Homo sapiens: one gene and its partners. The protein of the gene in region 1 interacts with the protein of each later gene in a pairwise test. Each region holds a gene or a part of one and is shown in the gene's direction. Other genes may lie near its edges. The genes, in order: UBE2U, TRIM24, TRIM3, RNF166, VPS41, TRIM74 and TRIM37.

Region 1 (3,500 bases):
TCGGTGCACTCTATGAATCAATTTACTTAAAAATAAAACTGTGGAAAGACTAAACCATAGGGAGAAACTCCAGTGTTAATCAGGTTACAGTTAATCAATAAACATGACACTTTAGTAAAAATGTTTATTTCTATATTATAGGTTTAGTCTTCCAACTGACAATACATTTTACATCGGAGTACAACTATGCTCCTCCAGTTGTGAAATTTATAACAATTCCGTTTCATCCAAATGGTAAGAACTAAATGACATTTTTATCATTAGAGGCTTTGTCCCTATTATCCTTGTTTCTTATAATAATCATGTTTCTTTTTAAGAACTTTATTATGATTCTAAAAGTAAGAACTCTCATTGGGGAAAATATGAAAAGGCTGGAAAAAATTAGCAATCACCTTAAATCCTAATGCAAAGAGAAAATACTGTCAACATTTTGCCAAATTTATTTTCCTTTTTTCTAAGTATGAATTTTTTCTATACAGTTGAGGTATTATGCATGAAGTTTTGCCTCTAGGTTTTTGATTTTATTTATTTTATGGTGTTTTTTTTGAGACAGAGTCTCTCTCTGTCGCCCAGGCTGGAATGCAGTGGTGTGATCTCGGCTCACTGCAACCTTCACCTCCCAGGTTCAATCGATTCTCCTGCCTCAGCCTCCCCAGTAGCTGGGACTACAGGCATGCGCCACCACACCTGGCTAGTTTTTGTATTTTTAGCAGAGATGGGGTTTCACCATGTTGGCCAAGCTGGTCTTGAACTCCTGACCATCCGCCCACTTTGGCCTCCCAAAATGCTGGGATTACAGCTGTGAACCACTGCGCCTGGCCTAGGTTTTTAATTTTAAAACTATATGTCTTTTTTCTGCATTATTAAACAGTCTTCAAAAGATCATCTTAAATGGTTCAACAATACACTTAACCATTTCTGTATTGTTCAATATTTTAGTTGGATCTAATTTTTCATTATTATAAAAAAACGATGCACTGGACAGATTAACTTTTTTTAAATAAAAGGTAAGTTAGATTGCTACTTAAAGTTATACACAAAACCAATTCCTGAAGGATCAAAAATCTAAAAATTTTAAATGCTGGAAAAGAAGGAAATCTAATAGAATTTTTATGGGCTTGGTGAGGAAGACGTTTCTCAGCATGATAAAACCCAGTAACTGTATGGAAAATATGACACATTAAACTGCAAAACCTGTTAAAACTTCTCTACGGCCCAGGACATTATACTCAGAGGTCAAAGACACTGACTTTTGCAAACTGAGGGAAAATATTTGCAATGCATGTAACAGAATATGTATACCATATGAAGAACACTTGTCAATCAATATAAAAAGAACATAAAGCAATTAAAAAATGGAGAAAGGCTATAAACAAACACTGGACAGAATAAACAACAAAAATAAACATAAAAAGATTATCAATCTCACTACTAAGAAAATAAAAGCAAATTAAAACAAAAAGTATTGTTATTTATCACATATTCATAAAATGTCAAAATATAACATACATATTTAGTAGGCATGGGCAGACATTGTTCCTCTGATATAATCATGACCTTTTGAGGAAGTAGTGTGACAGTTTCTAATCAGGTATAAAATGCATATATCCCTAAATTCCCGTAATACCATGTTTATAAACTATTCTGTAGAAATATTAGCACAAGTGTGCAAGAGTGTGTTATATTTAAAGACGTTTATTCCCACCAGGCTCAGTGGCTTATGCCTGTTATCCCAGTACTTTGGGTGGTCAGTGGGGAGTATTGCTTGGGTCCAGGAGTTTGACACCAGCCTGGGCAACATAGTGAGACCTGTCTCTACAGAAAATAAAAAAATTAGCTTGGCATGGTAGCATGTGCCTGTAGTCCCAGCTACTTCAGGTCTGAGGTAGGAGGATTGCTTGAGCCCAGGAGGTCGAGGCTGCAGTGAGCCATGATTGTGCCATTGCACTCCAGCCTGGGCAACAGAACAAGACGCTGTCTCAAAAAAAAAAAAAAAAAAAAAAAAAAAAAAAAAAAAAAAAAAAGATGTTTATTCCCAACAGCAATGTTAGAAATAGGAAAAATGGAAATAACTTCAATCTCCATTAACACAGGAATTTTAAGTGAAATATCCTACAGTTACGTGTATTGCTTCTAAACAGAACGAGGAAGGTCTACGAACCTTTTAGGTCTAGATCATTGCTATATCCTTAGAATCTTCACTGCGTGGCATATAGTAGGTATTCAGATATTTTTTGAATAAATATTTGTGTCCAGAAATATGTTGAAAATACATTGTTAAGTGAAAAAATACATTGAACAATAAAATGTAAAATATATTCCCATTTAATAAACACACACATATGGGTGTGTATACATATATGTGTTTGTGTGTATATTTGTATAGACCAACTGGTAATATTGGTCTTGAATAGTAGAATTAGTAGGCAGGGGAACATTCATATTTTACATTAGATTTTTTATGTTTTTTTCCCAAGTACATTATTTTATTGTAATTAAAACCTATTTTTGGTATCTATAACACAAAATTAATTACATACGTGTGCCTTTATTTGTTTAAAATAGTTAGAATTATTGGATTAAATTCAATGGGGGGAGGTACTCTTATCCCCTAGTCCTCATCCCTCCCACTTCCATAAAGTAGAGGGAACTTTAGTCTCTAGGAGGGGGAAGGTATAGGAAAACTTGTGACTGCTCTTTTTTTTTCCCCCATCACTCCTCCTAGAAGTCACTTATCTGATTAGGGAGATGAAGGAAAGAATTGAGCATATGTGGCCCAGAACTTGCTCAACACTCTCTCCTTCTGACCATACTGGGTATAGTCTCTTTTGCTCCAGGCAGGAAACTTAGGCAGGCCTTCGGTTTGGGAGTTAAGTTTAAATCAGGGGGACTTTTGTGGAGCCTGATTAAAGCCATTCATCAAGTGCGTTCTCCATTTCAGTCTTATGTGCAATGAAGCTGATGTTTTTACTTCCACCTTTCAATACTTTGATCTATTTTATAATTACATATGAACTTGAGGGGAGAGAAGGGTTATTTACTAGCTTTCAACCCCCGCCCCCGCCCGCCCCGCAAAAGATGGCTATGTACAGTTTTAAGTCTTTATATAAAAAGCCAAATTGCCTTTCGGTGGTATTTGTACTCCTACCAAAAAGTACATATAAAGTTCTTATTTTAGCACCTTCCAATTCTGGCCATTGAAACTTTGAAGAAAATTTTTTTGCCAATTTGGTAAGAGTCTTGCTATTATTTTAATAAGCACTTCTTTGAATACTTGAGAAGTAAACATTTCCCACCTTTGTTGATTCTTATTTTGTGACTCGTATGATACAATTGACAGTGCTATCACATTGTCCTAGATGTTGCAAATATTTCCTCTAATTTGTCATTAATTTTCAACTTTGTTTATGCTGTTTTTTCACATCTGGGATTTAGAGATTTTTATGATTTAAAATAAATTTATATTTAAGATCTATTAATCTTGTCCTTTGAGGCTTTTG
Region 2 (3,500 bases), on another chromosome or scaffold:
AATGAAGCATGTATTCTTATATTATCAGGAGATTATAAATAGCCATTGTTTTGATTGATTTTGAGGCAGGGTCTCACTCTGTTGCCCAGGGTGTAGCAATCATGGTTCACTGCAGCCTCATACGCTTGGGCTCTAGTGATCCTCCTGCTTTAGCCTTCCCAGTAGTGGGGACTACAGGTAGGTGCCACCAGGCCTGGCTAATTTTTTTTTTTTTTTTTTTGGTTAGAGACGGGTCTTTGTTGTCCAGGCCTTTTATTTTTAAATTAAATTCTCCAGAGTTTACAAACCAATGAAATGATAATCTTCATTTTATCAGCCACATCCTGTTGTTCATCAAACCTTTTAGAACTTCTGTCAATTCGGAATTTTTTTTCTACTTCCCACTTTCATTGTATTCCTACTTGTTACTGTTTAGTTTGGGCCTTCATCAGTTCAAATCAATTATTTGCAACAGTTTTCCTTCTTTCTTGGCTGCTTTTAATTAGATCTTCCTTGTTCCAGTCTACACTACCACCAGAGCATAGCTTCTTAATCTTTTTAGGGCAGTAGTCCAGAATCCCTCTTTTGTTTATTGCCTTAAGTCTGAACCCATTGATCTTTCTGTGTCTTCCATTAGTTGGTTTAATTTTGTTTACTTGGTTTTCTTTTTTGAACTCCTTTTCTATCAGCCCGTACCACCTTTCGTTGTCTTCTGTAGCTTCCACTGGCACTAGGGTCTCACTGAGATCTTACCCCTGTTACTCTAACACAGAAAGACTTGGCAATGTTTGGAGATGTTTTTGATTGTCACACCCCAAGCTGGGAAGTATAGAGAGATGCCACTGGTATCTAATAATTGGTGGAGGCCAGGGATGTTGCTAAACATCCTGAAATGCAGAGACATTCCTCCACAACAAGGAATTATCTGGCCCAAAAGTCAATAGTGCAGAGGCTGAAAAACCCTGCCGGTGTAACAGGCTGTAACAGACTGCTGAAAATTCAGCAACTACTTACTGTTTCATAGAATTTCATCATGGTTCCCAGTTTCAATGTAGTGCTAAGTGAACACATTCAACAGGACTTCAATGCATAATTATTCATTCGTTTTATGAATGTATGGTTTCCCCCTCCTCAGGACCTGTTACTATGACTAGTGTACACCCCCCAATACGTTCACCTAGTGCCTCCAGCGTTGGAAGCCGAGGAAGGTAAACTGACTAAACCATATTTTCTAGTATATAAAAATCTCTAATTAGATTTCTTTTGCCAGTGTTCAACATGTTTTGATACTCAATATATTTTGAACAATTTCCTTTATTTTTAATTAAAATTTTAATAACTACTATATATTTTAATGAATTAGTTAAGGGATTAACAAAAGTACAAATTTACCTTTGAAGATAGAAGAATATTTGTCAATATGTTGAAAATAAGAAATGTTGGATATTCATATAATAGCAAAGAAAACATAAAAATGAATAGGCATAACACAGTACACTATATAGAAACACAAATTTAGAGAAAAGATAAAATTTTATGCTAATTTGATCTCTAATGACTAAATGTTGATTCTACTTTAAAATAAATATACAGTTATTGAAATTCTATATTTTAAGCAACTGCTCTCCTCTTCCCTGCATTATGCCTGAAAATTCCTCCTAGCTAGTGAACCCAGTTCTTACTTTATCATATGGAAGAATTGTCTGAGGGAGAAAAGTTTGCCTTTAATCCCATGAGAACATAGTGAATCTCTGTAAAAGCTTTTTGACCCACTACCTTCTTTAAATAGTATTGTGTAAATACATGATTATTTCATTGTCTTCACCAAAGTATTCACTTTGCTACTGACTAGAGAAGGAAATGAGAAAGCCTAAAATCAGATGCCAGTTCTAAGATACTAAATCTGGTTGCCTAATTGTAAAGCCTCAGGTTTTTAAAAGTTTAGGTTTATTGAAACATCTTTCTAGATATATAACTATTTAGATAGGTTAATATGTAAAACATTTTTATCATAAATGAAACTTGCATACACCAGTTTCATTTGTTATGCATCATTAATTGCTGATGTTAACATACTTATTGTTGTGAAGATACAGTATTTTAGAAAGTTGTTGTTATACTTTTTATGAGGTATTTAGCTTAACATTCTTAGATTGCTTTTTCTTCTCTCTCATACTTACAGCTCTGGCTCTTCCAGCAAACCAGCAGGAGCTGACTCTACACACAAAGTCCCAGTGGTCATGCTGGAGCCAATTCGAATAAAACAAGAAAACAGTGGACCACCGGAAAATTATGATTTCCCTGTTGTTATAGTGAAGCAAGAATCAGATGAAGAATCTAGGCCTCAAAATGTAATTATGAATGCTTGCAATGCTATTCCTATGCATGGTGGGTAGGGTGAGAGAATCTTTTAAATAGCTCTTAGGAGTTTTTTTTTAATGTTATATTTAAAAGGATTTAAAGACAATTTGAGGGAATCTCTCAGTAAATTAAACAAAAAGACAAAGATGGAAAAACAGGAAAGTTTTTAAAAATCAGAGGCTCAGATATGGAGGCTGGGCAGTTAAAAGGAGATATTCTTTCTTTAATCAGAGTTTTATACCCAGGCAAATTATCAATCAGATTGACTTGAAGATTAACTAAACATTTTCGTGCAAGTTCTCAAAATAATTCTTATGTACTCATTCTCAGGAAGATACTTGATAATATGAATCATCAAAAATATAGTAAAACAAGAAAGAAGACATAAGATTCCAAAAATGGAATCTGACACAGAAGAAAAAGGCAACCCCCAGTACAGCAGCAGCAGCAGCTTGTGCAGTAGTCTGTAGCAGGAAGACATAGGACTCCCAAGGGAGAAAAATGCTTCAACAGTATTGAGAATCTCCTGTTGGAGATTGTGAGAATAACATAGAAATAGGTACCTAGAAAGATAAGCAACTGAAAATATAAGGTAATTACAGAGTCTTAGTAAAAACAAAAAGTTGTACAAAAAATGTCTTAGTACATTTTGTGGGTCTGCAGTGAACAATATTTAAATAATAATAATAATGATGTAAACAAACACCTGAGTACGAATGTAACTAAAAACTGTGATGCAATCAGGATATAACCTGAATATGCACTTAACCAAAAATTGTGATTTTCAGAATACTTAACCAGTACAAGACAAATACTGATCAGTTAGAATAGATACTGGCAATAAACAGTTATACCAGTACCTACCAACTAAAACAATCAATGCTTAATCAAAACTAAGTTAAAGGGATGGGGTGAATGGTGGTGGTGGTGGTTTTGTGTGTGTGTGTGTGTGTGTGTGTGTGTGTGCGCGCACGCACGAATGGAAGCAGGACGGGGTTGGAGAATCAGAATGTAAAAACCTAATCTCCTGATCTTCACTAGTAAGGATTATAGATGTATTGCAATTTTTAACAATCATTTTATTTAGAAATATGGAGGTAAACAGCAGAAGAAAAAGCTAGGTTTGAAAATAGTTCTTCCAAGGAATAAGTGCTTTTAAC
Region 3 (3,500 bases), on another chromosome or scaffold:
TCATCTCTACCTATCTTCCCAAACTCACCTCTTCCTTTTATTGACTTGGCTCCAACCACACAGTCCTTTCAGGTTCTCCATGAGCCTTCTGCCTAAGAACCTTTATCATGCTGTTTCTTCAGCCTAGAATGATTTCCCTTCCTGACTCCCTGTTGTTTCTCACCCTCACCCATACCATTTTTCTCCCATCCACCCAGAATTCTGCTTAAAAGTTACCTCCTTGGAGAGCCTTCCCTGATGACTCAATCAAAAGTGTTCTTTCTCACAGCATCCCTTTTTTCTTTATATCACTTCCCTGCCACTATTATTTACTTTTAAAATATCTGCCACCACCTCCCCACCACAGGGACAGTGACCCTGTCTGTTTTATCATTCCATTCCTAACACCTGTACAAAGTAGGCAGTAAATATTTATTGAATTCCTGAAATCAATTCAGTAAATATAGATCAATCTTTATGTCAGGCTCTGTGCTAAGTGCTAAGAATGAAAACATAAAATAAAATATAAATAAATAAATAAAATGCCTATCCTCAATAACACTGCATGGAGTGGAGAAAGCAGAGAAGTAACAAGAACATTACAGCATAGCTTATAAGAGTTAGGATGGAGTAAATACAGGGTGCTGAGGGACACAGAGGTAGAGCACCCAAGCCAGACTCTGGGTAGTCATGGAAGGTCTTCTAAAGGAGGTGACATTTATATGGGGACCTGAAAGATGAGTAGGTGTCACATCAGCCAGGAAAAGGGGCCAGGAAAAGGATCCCAGGACAGAGAGAACGAATGCCTGATCTCCCAGAAGCAAAAGAGAACAAGGAATTTTCCAGGAACTGGAAAAAAAAAAAAAAAACCCAGCAGGAATGATTGATCATAGACTTATGAGACATGAGGTTGTAGAAAAGGTATGGGGCAAAGTTAAGCCTCACTGGTCAATATAAGGACTTTGGACAATGGATAACATTTGAAGGAATTTAAACAGAGTACTGACAAGATCAAATCTGTGTTTTAGAAAATTCATTCTGGCTTCAAGGAAGATAAATGAAAAGGTGTCAGTGAGGAGACAAGAACACCAGTTAAGAGGCTATTGCTGTATTCCAGGAGAGAACAGATGGTTGCCTGAATTAGGGGTAGTAACTGTGGGATTGGAGAGAAGGGTTTAAGATATTCAGGAAGCAATCCCGACCTTGATACTAACTGGGTGTGAAAAAGAGTGCAGTTTCAGGCAGTTGTGCTAAGAGGTGGGTCAGGGTATAAATGGAAGAGCTGCAGGTAGTTAGAGGAGAGACACTCCATTCAGGTCTCTTGGAGGAGGATTTGGGGGAGGTAGAGGAGATGAAGGGTAGGTATGTCAGTGAAAATGGACATCTCTGTACCATGCACTCAACAGGCACTATGTCACACTCTCAAATTATTATTCCTGTAATTACAAATTAAGAGACTGAGGCTCAGAGAAGTTACATGGATTGTCCAAGCTCACATAGCTGGTGAGAGACTGAGCCAGGTTTGAAACCCAATCTAATCCTACGTCTGTGCTCTTAAACAGAACACCAGGCTCAGAGGTCACATCACCCTGATCCTTCCAGTCACTGCCCTGTCTTGCCCCTAGCAGGGAAGAGGTGGGGGCAAGTTCTCTGCAGGGGATTTGAGTGGCGGGGATTGGGTGGGGAGAAGAAGTTCTGGACTCCCTGGTGCTGACCATCTCTCCATACAGAGGCTGGTGTGAGTGGCGGGAGCCATCTGTGGGCGCCATGGCAAAGAGGGAGGACAGCCCTGGCCCAGAGGTCCAGCCAATGGACAAGCAGTTCCTGGTATGCAGCATCTGCCTGGATCGGTACCAGTGCCCCAAGGTTCTTCCTTGCCTGCACACCTTCTGTGAGAGGTGAGGGGATGTGTGTACTGGGGAGGGATGAGGACCCTGTGGGGAGGATGAGGATCCTCCTCCCCTGTGGGGAGGGTGAGGGAGCATGTGTAAACCTGTAGTAGGTGAGGCAACATGCTTACCTGGGAGGAGAGCAGGTGAACCCCAACCTGCAGGAAATGAGGTTTTGAGGGCAAGAACCTGTGAGAGAACCATAAGAACCATAACACTGGGCCATGGTTCCTGTCAAGAATAGGGCCTTCTCTGTCCTTTCCCAAACCTCAAGGCAGCTTTTGACACCACCTAAGAAATCAAACAGTGCTCAGACTCAACCAGCTTTGGCATCAGCAATTTATGACTAGTTGGAGGATATTTGAAGTTAGGTCTGTCCTTCCCTGCTTGTCCTTGTTGTCCTCAGGTACTGAGTGAAAGGCAACCTGTCCCAGCCTCTAGGCTTCTATGGATCACTTATTCATTTAACAAATATTCATTTATTGAGCAACTACTATGTGCCAGACCCTGTTCTAGGCATTGGGTATGCAGTGATGAGCAAAAACAGATAAGATCCTTACTCTTTTTTTTTTTTTTTTTTTTTTTTTGAGATGGAGTCTCGCTCTGTTGCCCAAGGTGGAGTGTAGTGGCACGATCTCGGCTCACTGCAACCTCTGCCTCCCAGGTTCAACCAATTCTCCTGCCTCAGCCTCCGGAGTAGCTGGGACTACAGGCGCACGCCGCCACGCCCAGCTAACTTTTTGTATTTTATTACAGATGGGGTTTCACCGTGTTGCTCAGGCTGTTCTTGAACTCCTGAACTCAGGCAATCCGCCTACCTCGGCCTCCCAAAGTGCTGGGATTACAGGCGTGAGCTACCGTGCTTACTCTTTTTAAAAACTGATACACAATAGTTTACATATTTATGGGGAACATGTGATACATTGTTACACAAGCATAGAATGGGTAACAATCAAGTAGGGTATTTAAGGTATCCATCACTTACAATGCTTACTCTTAAAGAGCTAACAGTATAGTGAAAGAGAAAGATAGTCATCAAATAATCATATAGCCAGATTATAGATAAATATAACTTTTAGTAAGTGCTGCAAATAAAGTGCTGAGCTATGAGAGATTGGCATATGGAATCTGTTATAGTTTGGAGAATCAGGGAAGGTTTCCCTGAGGAGCAATTCAGAGGATGAATAGGAGTTAACTAGGTAAAGGGGGTTGGAAGAGCATTCTGCACAGAAGAAAGACCATTGGAAAAGCTCATGTGACATGAGAAAATATGTCAGGTAAGAGGCCTGGAGGAAGCCTGGTAGGGCTAGAGCAGAGTGAGTGTGACTGAGAGTATTATGGGATGAAGCTGGAGAGGTAGGTGGAGGCCAGACCACCTAGGGCTTTGTAGACCTGTTAGGGAATTTCACCTTTACCCTGAGAGCCACATGAAGCCTTTGCAGGGTTTTATATGTGATCACATCTGTATTTTGACAATATTCTCTTGGGCCCTTATCTCTCATTGTTCTGTCTTGGGTGGCCTGGTCCCTAGGTCTTCTCACCACCACTGCCTCTATCCGCACTTTTCCTCTGCCTTCTGCCCCAACGGAAACCTGGCTCTGCACCAGAGATACTGCTTCCCTGCCAGCCCTG
Region 4 (3,500 bases), on another chromosome or scaffold:
TCCTCTCTTCCCAAGCTCTGCCTGGGACCCTTTTCCTTCCCCTCAGCCCGTGGCCGTGCTGTGCAGCCGAGCCCCGGCCTGGTCTCTGGCAGCTCAGGGTTCACTCAGGAGGTGCACCATCCAGTCGTTTCCAGTGTGTTTGCAATTATGCAACAATCGATGCAATTCTAGAAGATTCTTCCCACTCCAGAAAGAAACCCAGGACTCTCCCCCTCGCCTGGCACCCACCCGTCTGCTTTCTGGTCACTGGGTTTCTCTCTGCTGGACGTTGAGCGTGAGTGGACCCCCACGACACGGGTGGGACGTGCTTGCTGTCTGCCCTGCACTGTTTTCCAGGCCTTCCGGTGCGTGGTGGGGCTGCACGCCTCTTCCCGGCCGAACGCCCTTTCCATGGGTGTGCACGCCACGCCGTCTCTTCATCCGTTTACCGACGGGCACCTGAGCTGCTTCCGCTTCTCCTGCCATGAGTGCCTGAGTATGGGGGTCCCCTGAGGCCTCCCCAGGTGGACCATCTTGCCAGCACCTTCCTCCCGTGAACGGGTGAAGTAGGCGGCCCCCCCGGCTCAAATCCAGGGGTCAGTGCCAGGGATGACCCTGGAAATATCTGCTGGGGCGCCTGGTGAGAACTCGGGTGAGGTGGGTAAAGTGAGCGACCTCTTTACTCTGCAGAAAAAGGCTTGTTCACTTTCTGACGGGTCTCAAGCTGAGTCCCGCTTTCTCTCACACGAAGTTTCATGTGGGAGCCACCAGCCAGGTGGTGGCTCTGTGGGAATCCAGTGGTGGCAAAGAGGGCCTGGGGGACAGCAGGAGGGACTTAAGATGCCTGCTTGGCCACCTTTGCCTGAGGCCCTCAGACTTCCTCCTTGCAGAAAGGGCCTTTTCTTGAGGGATGTGGAAATCTCTTGACAGCAAAGAGGACTCTGGCCCTGAATTCAGCTGAGTCGTTTGTGAACCCAGGGCCTGCCCACAGCCCCTCTGTCCAGTGGGGCTCCTGTACCAGCCCTGTGGCCTTGCCAGGGAGAAGGGAAGCTACACCCCCGGGTGCTGTAGCCTTCCTGGGACTGGGGGGCTCTGCCTCAGTTCCAGCTCCTCGCCGCAGCTCAGCTGTCCCCACAGTGCTCCTCACAAGGCCAGATGTGGCTGCCCCAGTATTAAGCTCCTTCTCTGTGTTTGCACTGGGGGCTCTCGCGCCTGGTGCTCCCACTGGCTGGTGGTGCACCCCTCCAAGGGCTGTGTGCGTCTGCAGAGCGGGAGGGTGTGCGAGCCCAAGGAAGCCCCTGCTGCTGGAGCCCGGAGTGCGCACGGGGCTGTGGGACGCTCAGTCTGTCCTCACGATGTGGTGTCCCCAGGGGCAGTGCCAAGAGCCAGGGCCCATGGGTGCCCAGGACCCGAGCCTCCGCCCAGATGGAGCAGGACCCCCTCCTGCCTGCGAAGCTGTCCCAAGCCTGGTGACTGCCACCCAGCCTCAGGATGTGCTGCCACTTGGCTAGCTTTGGCCCTTCCCTGTCCAGTGCATCTGGAGCCCCTGGGGCCTGGCCGTTTCCTTTCCCACGATTGTTTGAGGTTTTATCCCCCAGAGTGTGGAGCCGGGAGAGTTTCCAGAGTCCCCGGGCTGTCCCTGCGCCCCACAGCCCACCCAGGTGTTGTCGCCACGTGAACGTGAACCTGGTAGCCCGAGCTGGGGCCTCCTGCCTATGGGAGCTCCTCTGGCCCACTCGCGGGGACAGCCATAGTGACGGCTCTGCCGCTAGCCAGAAACCACAGGGGCCTACTGTCAGGAGGGACCGGGGCCACCCTTTAGCCAGATGGGGCCCATCCAGCTGGTGGGCCCCGGACATAGGAGTGACCATCTCCAGAGACGGCGACAGCGGTAGGGGGAGCTGCCCCTGTGGACCCCACAAATGCTGGGTCCTAAGAAGGGCCCCGAGCAAGGCCTGCGGTTCGGGAGACCCGAGGGGCGGGCTGGCACTCAGGCCCCTGTGCCCTGCAGGTTCTGCGGGGAGTGTCTCCAGCCCTGCCTGCAGGTGCCATCCCCGCTGTGCCCACTCTGCCGCCTGCCCTTCGACCCCAAGAAGGTGGACAAGGCCACCCACGTGGAGAAGCAGCTCTCATCCTACAAAGCGCCCTGTCGAGGCTGCAACAAAAAGGTACCCGCCTGCTTGGGCCGCCCTGGAGCCGGGGTCACTTGATGGGCAGCCTCAGCCCACGGGTTCTGCAGAGGGTGGGGGCCGGGGCCCTCTCTCTTTCCTGTTGAGTAATCGCGGTCTCTGCTCCTGCACCAGGAAGCCAGCCCCGGCGCCTCCCTCCCCTCCCGTCTTCATCTCTCACTTCCTGTGGTGACGGCTGACGGGGGGGCCAGCCCGGTGGGGGTAGCACTGTCAGAGCCGCCTAGCCCGGGCCAGGGGAACCCACGTGGGTTGTGGCCAGGGTAAGGACCAGGGGGCTGAGCTGAAACCTTCCCAATGCAGCCTTCCCCTGCCAGCCGATACCGGGGACGGCGCTGGGGGCTCCAAGGTCACAAGGGCCGCGGGCACAGTCAAGGACATCTAAGGGCCGAGCACCCTCCAGCTGCCAGGAGGGCCAGAGCCGGGCTGATGGGCACTGCCACACCCACATCAGAGCAGCGTAAGGGCCTGCAGCTTGTCATGGGCCTCATTGGCCCCCATGTCCATCCTGTCCTGGTGCCTGGCCCGTGCCCCGTGGCCCTCCCTGGCACATCCGCTTCAGGGTGGAGAGGCCCCAGCCAGCGCCCCGTTCTTTCAGTGGCTTCCGGAGGACTGAGCAGCTAGAGGTGATTTTGCATTTGCGTTTCCCGACGTTGCCACATCTCAGGTGAATAAGTTCTATGAAGCGCTCACACTAGTACGTGGCCCCTCGGTGGTTTGTCCTCGAGGTCGAAGGTCCAGATGTCCAGGGGCTGCCCTGGACTCCAGAGTGGTGCGGCTGAGCAGGCTGTGGTCTTGGGTGCTTGGGCACCTCCCGTCTCTCCCTGCTCAGAGTTCTTCTCTCCTGGGCAGCCAGAAAGGATCAGAACCGGTCACATGCAGAGCGGCCTCCCGTATCCCACAGCAGCTCCGTTCTCTAATCTGGGTCTTCAGATGCGGCTGTGTCTCCCGGCACCTTGCTGGAATGTGGTGCATCCCTCGGAGTCCAGCAGCCCTTAGGCAGAGCTGGGTGCCGAGCTTGAGTCCAGGAGGGCCTCAGACACCTGCGATCTTGCAGCCTGTTGCCCTGGACAGTGGGTGTGCTGTGGGTGGAGGATGGCGCCCTGCCTCCACGGAAGCATCCCCAGCTTGCCCCTCAGTCACACGAAGCGTCTGTCCCCAGCCTGGGGCATTTCTGAGTGGCCTCCACTTGGCCTCTTCCTTTTTCTGGAGCAAGTATTTGAACTCCTGCAGGCGCCAGAGATCTCCTTACCTGTTTCCCGCTACCCTTCTCCAGCCAGGTTTCTGCCCTCGGCCAGATTGTCCTGCAGTGACTTGCTTTTGGCCATGGAGTAG
Region 5 (3,500 bases), on another chromosome or scaffold:
AAGACTGCCCCCACTTCAGACATACCAATCACAAGTTATAGGCTGTCACCTGTACTTCCGACTGGTCAACTATAAACTGGAATTCCCACTACCACCTCCTTAGATTTGACTCATTTGCTAGAGCAGCTCATAGAACTCAGGGGAACACTTTACTTACATTTACTGGTTTATTATAAAGAATATTGCAAAGGATACAGATGAACAGCCAAATGGATTAGATGCAGAGGGCAAGGTATGTGGGAAGAGGCATGGAGCTTCCAGGTCCTCTTTGGGTGCACCACCCTCCAGGAACCTCCAGGTGTTCAGCTCTTGGGGAGCCCTCCAAAGCCACTCCTTTTGGGTTTTAATGAAAGCTTCATTACTTAGACATGATTGATTTAAACACTGGGCCATTGGTGATCGGTGTAACCTTCAGCCCCTCTCCCCTCCTTGGAGGTTGTGGGGCAGGGGTGGGGGTAGGGCTGAAAAGTTCCAACCCTTTAATCCTGTCTCAGTCTATCCTGTGCCCAACCCCATCCTTAAGTTACCTAGGGGCTGCTAGCCACCAGTCAGCTCATTAGCATACAAGAAGACACATCATTTTAGAGATTCTAAGGATTTTGAGAGTTATATGCCAGGAAACAGAAGGAGGACCAAATGTATATTTCACAATATCACAACTATTATTCTGTTGAATGAGTGTTCTTTTTCTGTTTTTCACCTTTGGTTAGGGTTTTGCCACATTGATCCGAGAATGGCCTGGAGATCTGTATAATAATTCAGTCATAGTTCAAGCAGTTCGGGATCATTTGAAGAAAGATAGTCAGAACAAGACTTTACTTAAAACCCTGGCAGAATTGTGAGTATACTTAAGTGTTTCTTTTTCCATATCAGTCTGTGTTGAAAAGTTTTTCATACTTTAGATTTGGCAAACTCCAAGTGGAGAAGATGTATTTTATACCATTTTCCTACATTCCTTCTTAGTAAAAACCTCTCATAAACCTCAAATGAGTAGGCGATAAGGACATGTGTGAAACTGTACAATTGCAATGTAATCTGTTTCCCAGAGAAGAGAACCCCTAACGCACAGCGCTTGGGAGAGGCAGTGGTTAGGAAACAAAAGGGTGCCAAGTTTTAGATCACTCAAGCATAACAGTTTCCCAATGAGCAAGGCTCTGGATTCTGCTCTTCTAGGGTCTTCAAGTCAGTTAATTTAATCTCTCAAATGTCAATTCCTTATGGGAAAATTTTAAACTTTAAAAGAGATGTCATAATAGAGGACTCCCTGACCCTGAGTCAGGGCTCAGAAAATGGCAGCTTGGTTAATATTTTTCATATTTCTTGGGCACATTCAGTGATGCAGGCTTTGTGCGAGACGCTTATGATACAGAGATAGATAAGATATGCTCTCAAGTACTTCGATCTAGGGAAACAAGAAGTATACTGCAGGTCTAGCCAAGACGACCATCCCTGCATCCACCTCTCCTCAGTGCCCCCATCACCTCAGGCCACTCCTCTCCCTTGTTTTTTCTTCTTTTGCCCAAAACCAAAAAAGGTATACCAAAATGACCTAGAACTCTGGACGTGTTGGATTTTCCACAAGAGGAGGTTGTGTTTATGGCATTCTAAGTTGAAATGCTAATCATTTTCTCTTGGAAACGTTGTCCTGTTAGATACCCCTTAGAGTCTGCAGCACGTTCGTAATGGACCAACAGTACAGCTTCAGTTCAGTGAGCTCTCAAGAGCTGACTTAGGGACTTAATGTGAAAAACATTGTTTCAATGGAAAAACACATTTCAGTTAGACACAGCCCCCTTAAAATCAGCTTTTGGAATATTAGCCATTTGTCAGCTGAATACTGCTTGTAAGAATTGGAACGGATGTTTCTGTTACTAAAATGAGAACTTCATCCTGGATCCTAGTTTCTTTGCTGTATGGATGTTTGTAAAACTTTTGAGACTGAGACCCCCAATAAAGACCATTTTTATTACTTGAATATTGTGAATTTTCTTAAATTTTGGCAACATGAGAGGCAAAGTTCTGAGAAAGAAATACTTATTGGTCGTGTATAGTTAAATCCTATTCAAAAATAGGAATATTTTTTGAAATAAAGTTAACTTTTCTCTCTAAAGGAGTGTTTCCATTTTTAATATTGTGAACCATGATCTCTCTGTGTGTGTTTTAATTAGAACTGTTGATGAATATTAATGTAAAAAATTTGTATTACCAGGTACACCTATGACAAGAACTATGGCAATGCTCTGGAAATATACTTAACATTAAGACATAAAGACGTTTTTCAGTTGATCCACAAGCATAATCTTTTCAGTTCTATCAAGGATAAAATTGTTTTATTAATGGATTTTGATTCAGAGGTAATGTGCTTTTTATTTTAGTACTGTCAATTATTTTTACTATTCCAAATATTTAATACTTAGATATCTATCCAAATGCTGGATTGGTGAATGAATCACATAACTTGGCTTTATGCCGACAATCTTTAGAACACTCTGACCCTCGCTAGATGTTGTTATTCTAGTTGTTTGGCATTCAGGAATCCTTTTCATAATGTAGTTATTCTGTGAAAGCAATTCAAAGTTGATAGAGAACTTTTAAAGTTGTGTGTGTGCGCATATAAAGTAATTTCTTGCTAAAACAATTCATATAATTTATAGAAACAAACCACGTATATACTTTGACTCATTTATCCCTCCTAACCTGTTTTCCAGAATTTTAAAATTAAGTGAACTTCCATCTTGACCGACTTATTACTATTTTATTTCTTGGTGTTCACGTATCCAGCATGTGGGGTTTCCCCTGGTTTGAGGTGATGCTCATGTCCAGGACATGTGGAATGTTATTTTATTGTGTGACAAATTTGAATAACCTAATAATAAATTTACGCCCCCTAATGAGTGGACCCAGCCACAGCTCACATTGGTGCTTGCAAAGTGATGCAAGCTGTGTGTGTGTGTGTGTGTGTGTGTGTGTGTGTGTGTAAAAGAAATCTAATTACAAGTGCTCATGACAGAAATAATGAGGTTTATAAAACAGTGTTCTTATTCAAAAAATTGAAATTTTAGATAAACCTAAAAGTAGAACCCTAAAGGCTCCAAAAGGATTAATGCATTTTTCAATTATATTGTACTGTATTTAGAGATATTGTGTGCTATATTAATCTCCACCAACTTAAACTTAATTTAGATAGGAGCTAGAGCTACGTCTTTTTCTCAAAGATGCTTTAGCCCTTTTTAAAATACTGAGTCAAGTCTTTAGGGACTACAGATTTACGAAGAATTACGTAGCTCCAAGGAAGTTCAGGTAGAGAGGCTCTGCTTGTCTGGCAGAGGATGAGATGCTTATGTAAAAATTAATTACATTTTCCTCATATCTAGTCTCCCCTCATGCACCCCCTTCCATTGTTCTCCAGAGCTCGTTTTGCATATGTTCCTGTGGAAAAAAGATGAATGAGCTGAAACTAATTGCTATTCTAGAATGTGATCCAGATGTAAGGAATCAGA
Region 6 (4,142 bases), on another chromosome or scaffold:
AGCCGAGGAGTTTTCCTAAAGTAATTAGAATCGAAGGGTCTGTCCAAGTGTTCCAGGTATCCATACTATTTCACTAGAATAGAGGAAAGAATGTAAGGAAAATGGACCCAAAACACCCACGCCTCCATAATATCGAGTCTCTCATGATCACACAGAAACAATGCGATCAGATGAGCTTAAGCTGCCCGACACCACGAGGTACAGGAATAAATCTCTCTGCATTTTAGGAGCCTGCCCTTCGGCTCAGAGGTTCAAGAGCTTCATGGAAGCATCACGCAAAGGGGACATAGGGGTCCTTAGCTTTCCTCTTAAAAAAACTAATTCATGGCAGAAGCAGCGGCTCACGCTTGTAATCCCAGCTACTGGGGAGGCTGAGGTGGGAGGATCACTTGGGACCAGGAGTCTGAGACCAGCCTGGGCAACATAGAAAGTGCCCCATCTCTACAAAAATATTAAAAATTAGCCGGGCATGGTGGATTGCGCCTGTAAATCTCTTATTTGGGAGGCTGAGGCTGGAGAATCACTTGAGCCCAGGAAGCAGAGGCTGCAGTGAGCTATGTTCGCACCACTGCACTCCAGCCTGGGGAACTGAGCGAGACCCCGTTTCAAAAACAAAAATCCACTTCAAACAAAGCATTTCCAACCCCATTAAATGCTTTTTGAAAATGAGGCCTCTCTCTTCCCAACAGAGTGCGATGACATGGATCCTGCGGACAAACCGCCCCAGGGCGTACCTAGCACCGAAGCATCAGGCGCCACTAGGTCTCCAGCTCCTTCTCGGATGACGTCCTTCAGCACGCCCCGGTCCCCCGAGATGTCCAGCATCCTCTGACTTAACCGCTCGTACAGGGACTGATGGAGAATGAAAGCCAGGCCTCAGAGCCGCAGACCCACCCGGCCACCCCTCAGCGTCTACGCCCCCACGTCTGGGCCCTCACCTGGCCGGGGGCGTCGTCCCCTTCCAGGACTCCCTGGTTTAACGCGCTTCCCCCCATGTCCTAGCTGCCCTCCCTGTGGCGTGAGCCTTCGGCCTGGTGCGCCCCGCTGCCCTTCCTGGCTGTGACTCTGGTGGGGTTCCGAAGGCCCCTTTATGCCCGGCAGACCCCTACCGACGGCGGCATTCCATTCTGGGGCCACGAGGAGGCACTCATCGTTTCGTTCCAACCGCCGCCAACGGCCCTGGCCCTCGCGAGCTCTGGAACTACAGAGGTCGCACGGTGAGTTGCCAGGTGTGGCCCGTAATCGGAGCGCACAAAACATGATGGGACACGTAACGGGACCACACAGGGCACATTGGGCACTTGCAGGGGCGCGAGGTGGCGGCACGTAATGGGAGCGCGCTGAGCATGATGGGGCATGTGCGGGAGCGCCAGGCGGGGCATGTAACCAGAGCGTGCGGGGCATGATGGGGCACGGACATGGGGGGTTAGGTGGGGCACGTAATTGGAGCTCGCGGGGCAGGATGGGGCATCTAACTGGAGCGACAGAGAGCACGATGGGGCACTTACAGGGGCCGGAGGCTGGGTACGTAATGAGAGCGAGCGGGAAATGATGGGGCACCTAACGAGCACGCAGAGCATGATGGGGCACGGGTGCGAGGTGGGGCGCACAGTGGGAGCGCGTGGGGCATGATGGGACACATGGCGAGGCCGTCAGGGCACAGGGGAAGCACTTTTGGAACACGTGAGTGACAGGGCTGCCGCCCTTGAAGGAGCCCTCGGAGTGGCTGCGTGGTGGGGCACGTGGGGCAGGTTCAGGAAAAAGGATGCAGCATGTGATTGCAGGGCAACCTGGTGAGGACACGAGAGCCACCTGCCACCAGCAGGGTTCAGGGCTCCCAGCTGTGGGTTACTTCCACCTTCTTTCACTTTCCCTCTTCCATTGTATTCTAGAGAATTTAGGCCCAGACAAGACACTGATTGATTGATTGATTGATCGATTGACAGAGGCTCGCTCTGAGCCCAGGCTGGAGTTCAGTGATGGATCTCAGCTCACTGCAGCCGCCACCTCCTGGGCTCAAGAGATCCTCCTGCCTCGGCCTCCCAAGTAGCTGGGATTACAGACGTGCACCACCAGGCCCAGCTAATTTATTTTTTAGTTTTTAATTTGCTGGTAAGATGGTTTGTAGCTTTGTTGCCTAGGCTGGTCTTGAACTCCTGGCTTCAAGCGATCCTCCAGTCTTGACCTCCCAAAGTGCTGGGATTATAGGCGTAGGCTACAGCCAACTTTCAATACTGCCCCATTGGGGGTTACGTTTCCAACACATGAAATTAGGAGGATACATTCAAACCACAGCAGTATATTATGACCATAATATTCATTAACTGTGTAACAGGCTGGGCGCGGTGGCTCACACCTGTAATCCCAGCACTTTGGGAGACCAGAGTGGGTAGATCACTCGAGGTCAGGAGTTTGAGACCAGCCTGGCCCACATGATGAAACCGCCTCTCTACTAAAAATACAAAAAATTAGCCGGTGTGGTGGCAGGCGCCTGTAACCTCAGCTACTTGGGAGGCTGAGGCAGGAGAATCACTTGAATCCGGGAGGTGGAGGTGGCAGTGAGCCTGATTGCACCACTGCACTCCAGCCTGGGCAACAAGAGCAAAACTCTGTCTCAATAAACAAACAAACAAACAAAACCTGTATAACAGAGTGTCATTGAATTTCTAAACGTTGAAAGACTTCACATTAAAAAAAAACTCACAATTTAATATTATTGAGTGAAAGAAACCAGACACAAAAGGGTACATTCTATATGATGCTGTTTATGTGACATTCAAAAACAGGCCACATGACAACATGGTAATAAGGACAGTGGCTGTCCTTGTTAGGAGTTATGACTGGAAGGAGGCAGGAGGGAGCTTTCTGGAAACACTGTACATCTTGCTCTTGAGAGTGCACGTATATACATCAAGTGTTTATCAAGCTGTGTGGTTAAGATTTGCACACTTGTATATGTTATACCTCGATTTAAAAAATCTAAATAAGTAAATAAAGATACCTTCAAATCTTTAAAAAAAAAAAAAAAAAGAGGCCAGGTTCGGCGGCTCACACCTGTAATCCCAGCACTTTGGGAGGCTGAGGTAGGAGGATTGCTTGAGGCCAGGAGTTCAAAACCAGCCCAGGCAACAAAGTGAGACCCCTGTCTCTACTAAAGTAAATAAAACAATAAAATAAAAAAAAAAATTCGAGAGATCGAACCATCATCTGCCAGTTTGTATTAGAAAAAAAGAGAGAGAGAAGGAAGACTGCGTGCAATAAGGCTCATGCCTGTAATCCCAGCACTTTGGGAGGCCAAGGTGGGAGGATTGCTTGAGCCCAGAAGTTGAAGACCAGCCTGGGCAACAAAGCAAGACCCGGTATCTACAAAAAAAATTTTAAAAATTAGCTTGGCATGGTGGCACGTGCCTGTAGTCCCAGCTACTCAGGCAGCTAAGGTAGGAGGATGGCTTGAGCCTAGGAGTTGGAGGCTGCAGTGAGCTGTGACCACGCCACTGCACTCCAGCCTGGGCAACAGAGCAAGACACTGTCTTCCCCTGCCCCCCAGCCCCCCACCCCCCCCAAAAAAGGATATAAGAGCAAGAGATTGAGATTCAGAAAGAACTGTTTCCCAGCACCTGTCTGCTCCTGTCGGGGTCGTGAGGTGTGGACAGTGTGCCTAGTCCCTCTGTTTCTGCCCCTCCTCCACAGTGGCCAAGGCCAGCACTTGAATGTTATCAGAGCAGGCCCAACAAAGGCTGCCTCCCCAGTCCTGTGATGTAACCCAGTTTCCACCTGATTCTGGTGACCTTGGGGACACAGGGGTGTTGCTGGGGAAGGGGAGGAGAGAAGGGGCAGAGACCAGGCAGTGGTGCAGGCGTCCAGCTGCACTTCCCACTTCTGACTCTGTGCCTGCTGTTCCCTGCTGGGAAGAAGAAAAGCCAGTGATGCTGGCTTGAGGCCATAGTGGGAGGCCCAGTGGATCCTGAGAAGCTAGGTATTCCAATGTCGGGCTCTCGCTGGGGGCTTCTGGTGCTTCTTCTGTCTCACTGACAAGCTTTCATAGGGGAGCAGGTGGGAGATCAGGGTAGAGGCCTTGTAGGTTCCAGGCTCTCTAGAATTACCTGGGAGTGTCACCTATAAGTGTAGAGTTCTGGGTCTCA
Region 7 (3,500 bases), on another chromosome or scaffold:
ATAATGTTTTACTATTTGAATTTTTTTTTTAATGTGGCACAATTCTTTTAAGGTTTCAGGTACGTTCACCAACTTTCTTTCAAAAATCCCGGGACCAGCATTGGTACATTACTCAGTTGGAAGCTGCACAGACTAGTTATATCCAACAAATAAACAACCTTAAAGAGGTAAGAAAATATCTATTTCTGTTTTGGTGTTTCCTATTGTCCTTTTGGCTTGTTATATTTGTAATTAGATTTTATATATTTTATTGCTATTTGTAATTTTGTAATTTGTAATTAGAAAAAAAATCTAGTTATCTTGTTCCCCATCCTTACCAGTTCTGCAGTGTCCAGTTTAGTAGACACTAGCCACATACGGCCATGTAAATTTTTATTTTACTTTATTTATTTATTTTTTTTGAGAAGGAGTCTCGCTCTGTTGCCCAGGCTGGAGTGCAGTGGTGCAATCTCGGCTCACTGCAAGCTCCGCCTCCTGGGTTCACGCCATTCTCCTGCCTCAGCCTCCTGAGTAGCTGGGACTACAGGCGCCTGCCACCACACCGGGCTAATTTTTTTGTATTTTTAGTAGAGACAGGGTTTCACAGTGTTAGCCAGGATGGTCTCGATGTCCTGACCTCGTGATCTGCCCACCTCGGCCTCCCAAAGTGCTGGGATTACAGGCATGAGCCACCACGCCCTGCCACTTTATTTTTATTTTTTTTTATTTTGGAGACAGGTCGGACTCACTCTTGTTGCCAGGCACAATTTCCACTAACTGCAGCTTCAACTTCCCAAGCTCGGGTGATCTTCCCACCTTAGCCTCCCAGGTAGCTGGGACTACGAGCATGTGTCATGGCTAGTTTTTGTTTTTGTGGAGATGGGTTTCTCCATGTTGCCCAAGCTGGTCTTGAACTCCTGGGCTCAAGCAGTCTGCCTGCCTTGGCCTCCCAAAGTGCTGGGATTACAGGTGTGAGCCACTGTGCCTGGTCTGTAAATTTAGCTTAATTAAAATTAAAAATTTAGTTCCTTAGTTGCAGTAGCCACATTTCAAGTGCTTGCATTGGTTACTGCAAATCTAGAGCATTTCCATCATTGCATAAAGTTGTTTTGAACAGTGTGGCTGTAGTTTGAGGTAAGCTGTTTGTGTTTCTGTCAGTGACTTAGTTTCTCTTCCACAAGTTATCTTGGATTTAGAGGATTCTAGGCTATAGCACAATTAAAAGTTGTCCCATCTTGAACTCTTACTATTGTTGAATGAGCACTGGGGAAGATTAATTGATGAATTTTTATTTTACAGTGGTAAACTAAGGAATGTTTCATTTCCCTTAGGAAGTTAGGGTGTGGCAGGAGGTTTGGAGTGCTGAGAGTCGTTAATAGGTCAGGGAGGAAAATGTGAATAAATACATGCTTTCAGAGATTTTCATGTTAAATGTGCTATTTAAAACTGCCTGTATTCACTATACTGTTTGCTAATTGTATGTTTAGCTTAGGCTGGATATGAAAGAAGGAGGATGAGCATAAATGGGGCAGTTTATCTTTGTCATCAATTTTTTTTTATAAATAAAAGGCAGTAGGGATTCAGAGAAATGGTTTAAGAAATGGTGCCAAGTGAGGTGGCTCATTCCTGTAATCCCAGCATGTTGGGAGGCCGAGGCCAGAGGAACATTTGAGCCCAGGGGTTCAAAACCAGCTTGAGCAACATAGCAAGATACCGTCTCTAAAAATAAATAAAAATGAAATTAGCCAAGCATGGTGGCACACACCTCCAGTCCCAGCCACTTGAGAGGCTGAGGCAGTAGGATCGTTTGAGCCCAGTAGTTCAAGGCTTGCAGTGAGCTATGATGGCACCACTGCACTTCAGCCTGGGCAACAGAGTGAGACCATTCTCAAAAAATAAATAAAGCAATGGTTTTAGAAACATCTGGATGCATTTTTTTTTCACTTGAGACATCTTTTACTGTGCCAGTGAGCTGTGGCTAATATTTGTGCTTTTCTTGTTTTAAAAGAGACTTACTATTGAGCTGTCTCGAACTCAGAAGTCAAGAGATTTGTCACCACCAGATAACCATCTTAGCCCCCAAAATGATGATGCTCTGGAGACACGAGCTAAGAAGTCTGCATGCTCTGACATGCTTCTCGAAGGTGGTCCTACTACAGCTTCTGTAAGAGAGGCCAAAGAGGATGAAGAAGATGAGGAGAAGATTCAGAATGAAGATTATCATGTAATAATGAGGCCAGTTTTAGATTTTTGTGTTTGATTAAAAAAAAACAGTAGCATCATGGCTTTTAACATATTATGTGCTAAAACAGTAGGCTAAAAATATTGTCCATTGATTTCCATTAGTAATGTATGTATGCCCTTATGTAAATGTTAATAAGTCAGAAGTTGTTGAATCAAAGCATTTCAAGGTTGTGAAAAAAACAATACATTGTATAAAACAAACCGTGATACACATTTTAAAACCTAAACTACCATACATTGTGGATTTTAAAAATGTGTTCTGGCCGGGTGCGGTGGCTCACACCTGTAATCCCAGCACTTTGGGAGGCCAAGGTGGGTGGATCACATGAGGTCAGGAGTTCGAGACTATCCTGGCCAACATGGCCAAACCCTGTCTCTACGAAAAATACAAAAATTAGCTGGGTGTGGTGGTGCTTGCCTGTAATCCCAGCTACTTGGGAGGCTGAGGTAGGAGAATCACTTGAACCTAGGAGGCGGAGGTTGCAGTGAGCCAAGATTGTGCCACTGCACTCCAGCCTGGGAGACAGAGCAAGACTCTGTCTCAAAGAAAAAGAAAAAAAAAAGGTGTTCTATTTTCATTCACTGAAACTAGTACATGCCTTATCATTACTTACGTAGGTAGACTGATTTAGGATTCGGTAGCTAGCCAGGTTCTATCCCAGCTAAACAACAGTCAGAATCCAGAATAAGAGTTCAAGAAGTAGTTGATATTTTTACATAAGAAGGGATGCATAGACAGTTGGTTTTTTTGTAGTAATTTTTAAGATGAGAGACTTCAGTTTTAAGTTAAAATGAAGGACCCAGTGGGTCGAGAGAATGCACAGATTAAGTGCTTTGATAAACTAGAGATAATAGGGTTTGGAATGGAGCAGTCAGGTGAAGCAGTTAACCTTTGATAAACTGAGTTAAAGGAAGGGTGGAGTTTGCAGGTAAGGCAGCTGAAAAGTTGGGGAAGTTTTTGCTTAATAGTGGGTATTTTTTTTCTGTGCAGATAGGTGACAGTGTTAATTAATGACCTTGATAATGGTAAAATTAGGTAGAATTGAGGAGTGATGGTTTGAAACGTTACTCTGTGAGGAAGCTGATGTGGAATATGTGAAGGATTCCAGTCACACTGAGGGCCCAGCTGAAGGCGGCACGCATAAGTTAGTAAAATGATATCAGTCAGTGTGGTTGTGTGATTTTTCTCTACAGGGCTCAGCAGCTGAGGCACAGGAGCAGAAAATAGATTTTTGAAAACTGTATTATTCTTTGGTGCTTGGTTTATGGGCTGGATG

What was found.
Region 2: the proteins of UBE2U (region 1) and TRIM24 interact in a two-hybrid assay, tested with the Homo sapiens proteins (one large-scale study listed by BioGRID and IntAct).
Region 3: the proteins of UBE2U (region 1) and TRIM3 interact in a two-hybrid assay, tested with the Homo sapiens proteins (one large-scale study listed by BioGRID and IntAct).
Region 4: the proteins of UBE2U (region 1) and RNF166 interact in a two-hybrid assay, tested with the Homo sapiens proteins (one large-scale study listed by BioGRID and IntAct).
Region 5: the proteins of UBE2U (region 1) and VPS41 interact in a two-hybrid assay, tested with the Homo sapiens proteins (one large-scale study listed by BioGRID and IntAct).
Region 6: the proteins of UBE2U (region 1) and TRIM74 interact in a two-hybrid assay, tested with the Homo sapiens proteins (one large-scale study listed by BioGRID and IntAct).
Region 7: the proteins of UBE2U (region 1) and TRIM37 interact in a two-hybrid assay, tested with the Homo sapiens proteins (one large-scale study listed by BioGRID and IntAct).

What each region holds. Positions count from the first base shown.
Region 1 is NC_000001.11:64,206,623-64,210,122, forward strand, and holds part of UBE2U (ubiquitin-conjugating enzyme E2 U), read left to right. Parts: intron 1-141; coding exon 142-234; intron 235-3,500. UniProt on the Homo sapiens protein: Catalyzes the covalent attachment of ubiquitin to other proteins.
Region 2 is NC_000007.14:138,575,259-138,578,758, forward strand, and holds part of TRIM24 (transcription intermediary factor 1-alpha), read left to right. Parts: intron 1-1,114; coding exon 1,115-1,187; intron 1,188-2,161; coding exon 2,162-2,330; intron 2,331-3,500. UniProt on the Homo sapiens protein: Transcriptional coactivator that interacts with numerous nuclear receptors and coactivators and modulates the transcription of target genes.
Region 3 is NC_000011.10:6,463,942-6,467,441, reverse strand, and holds part of TRIM3 (tripartite motif-containing protein 3), read left to right. Parts: intron 1-1,709; coding exon of another isoform or gene 1,710-1,746; coding exon 1,747-1,877; intron 1,878-3,500.
Region 4 is NC_000016.10:88,699,909-88,703,408, reverse strand, and holds part of RNF166 (E3 ubiquitin-protein ligase RNF166), read left to right. Parts: exon of another isoform or gene 1-619; intron 620-1,990; coding exon 1,991-2,147; intron 2,148-2,458; exon of another isoform or gene 2,459-2,468; coding exon of another isoform or gene 2,469-2,789; exon of another isoform or gene 2,790-3,500. UniProt on the Homo sapiens protein: E3 ubiquitin-protein ligase that promotes the ubiquitination of different substrates. In turn, participates in different biological processes including interferon production or autophagy.
Region 5 is NC_000007.14:38,755,692-38,759,191, reverse strand, and holds part of VPS41 (vacuolar protein sorting-associated protein 41 homolog), read left to right. Parts: intron 1-710; coding exon 711-838; intron 839-2,209; coding exon 2,210-2,354; intron 2,355-3,500. UniProt on the Homo sapiens protein: Plays a role in vesicle-mediated protein trafficking to lysosomal compartments including the endocytic membrane transport and autophagic pathways. Acts as a component of the HOPS endosomal tethering complex.
Region 6 is NC_000007.14:72,966,667-72,970,808, reverse strand, and holds the start of TRIM74 (tripartite motif-containing protein 74), read left to right. Parts: upstream 1-1,342; 5' UTR 1,343-1,524; intron 1,525-3,855; exon of another isoform or gene 3,856-3,976; intron 3,977-4,142.
Region 7 is NC_000017.11:59,047,881-59,051,380, reverse strand, and holds part of TRIM37 (E3 ubiquitin-protein ligase TRIM37), read left to right. Parts: intron 1-52; coding exon 53-167; intron 168-1,987; coding exon 1,988-2,203; intron 2,204-3,500. UniProt on the Homo sapiens protein: E3 ubiquitin-protein ligase required to prevent centriole reduplication. Probably acts by ubiquitinating positive regulators of centriole reduplication.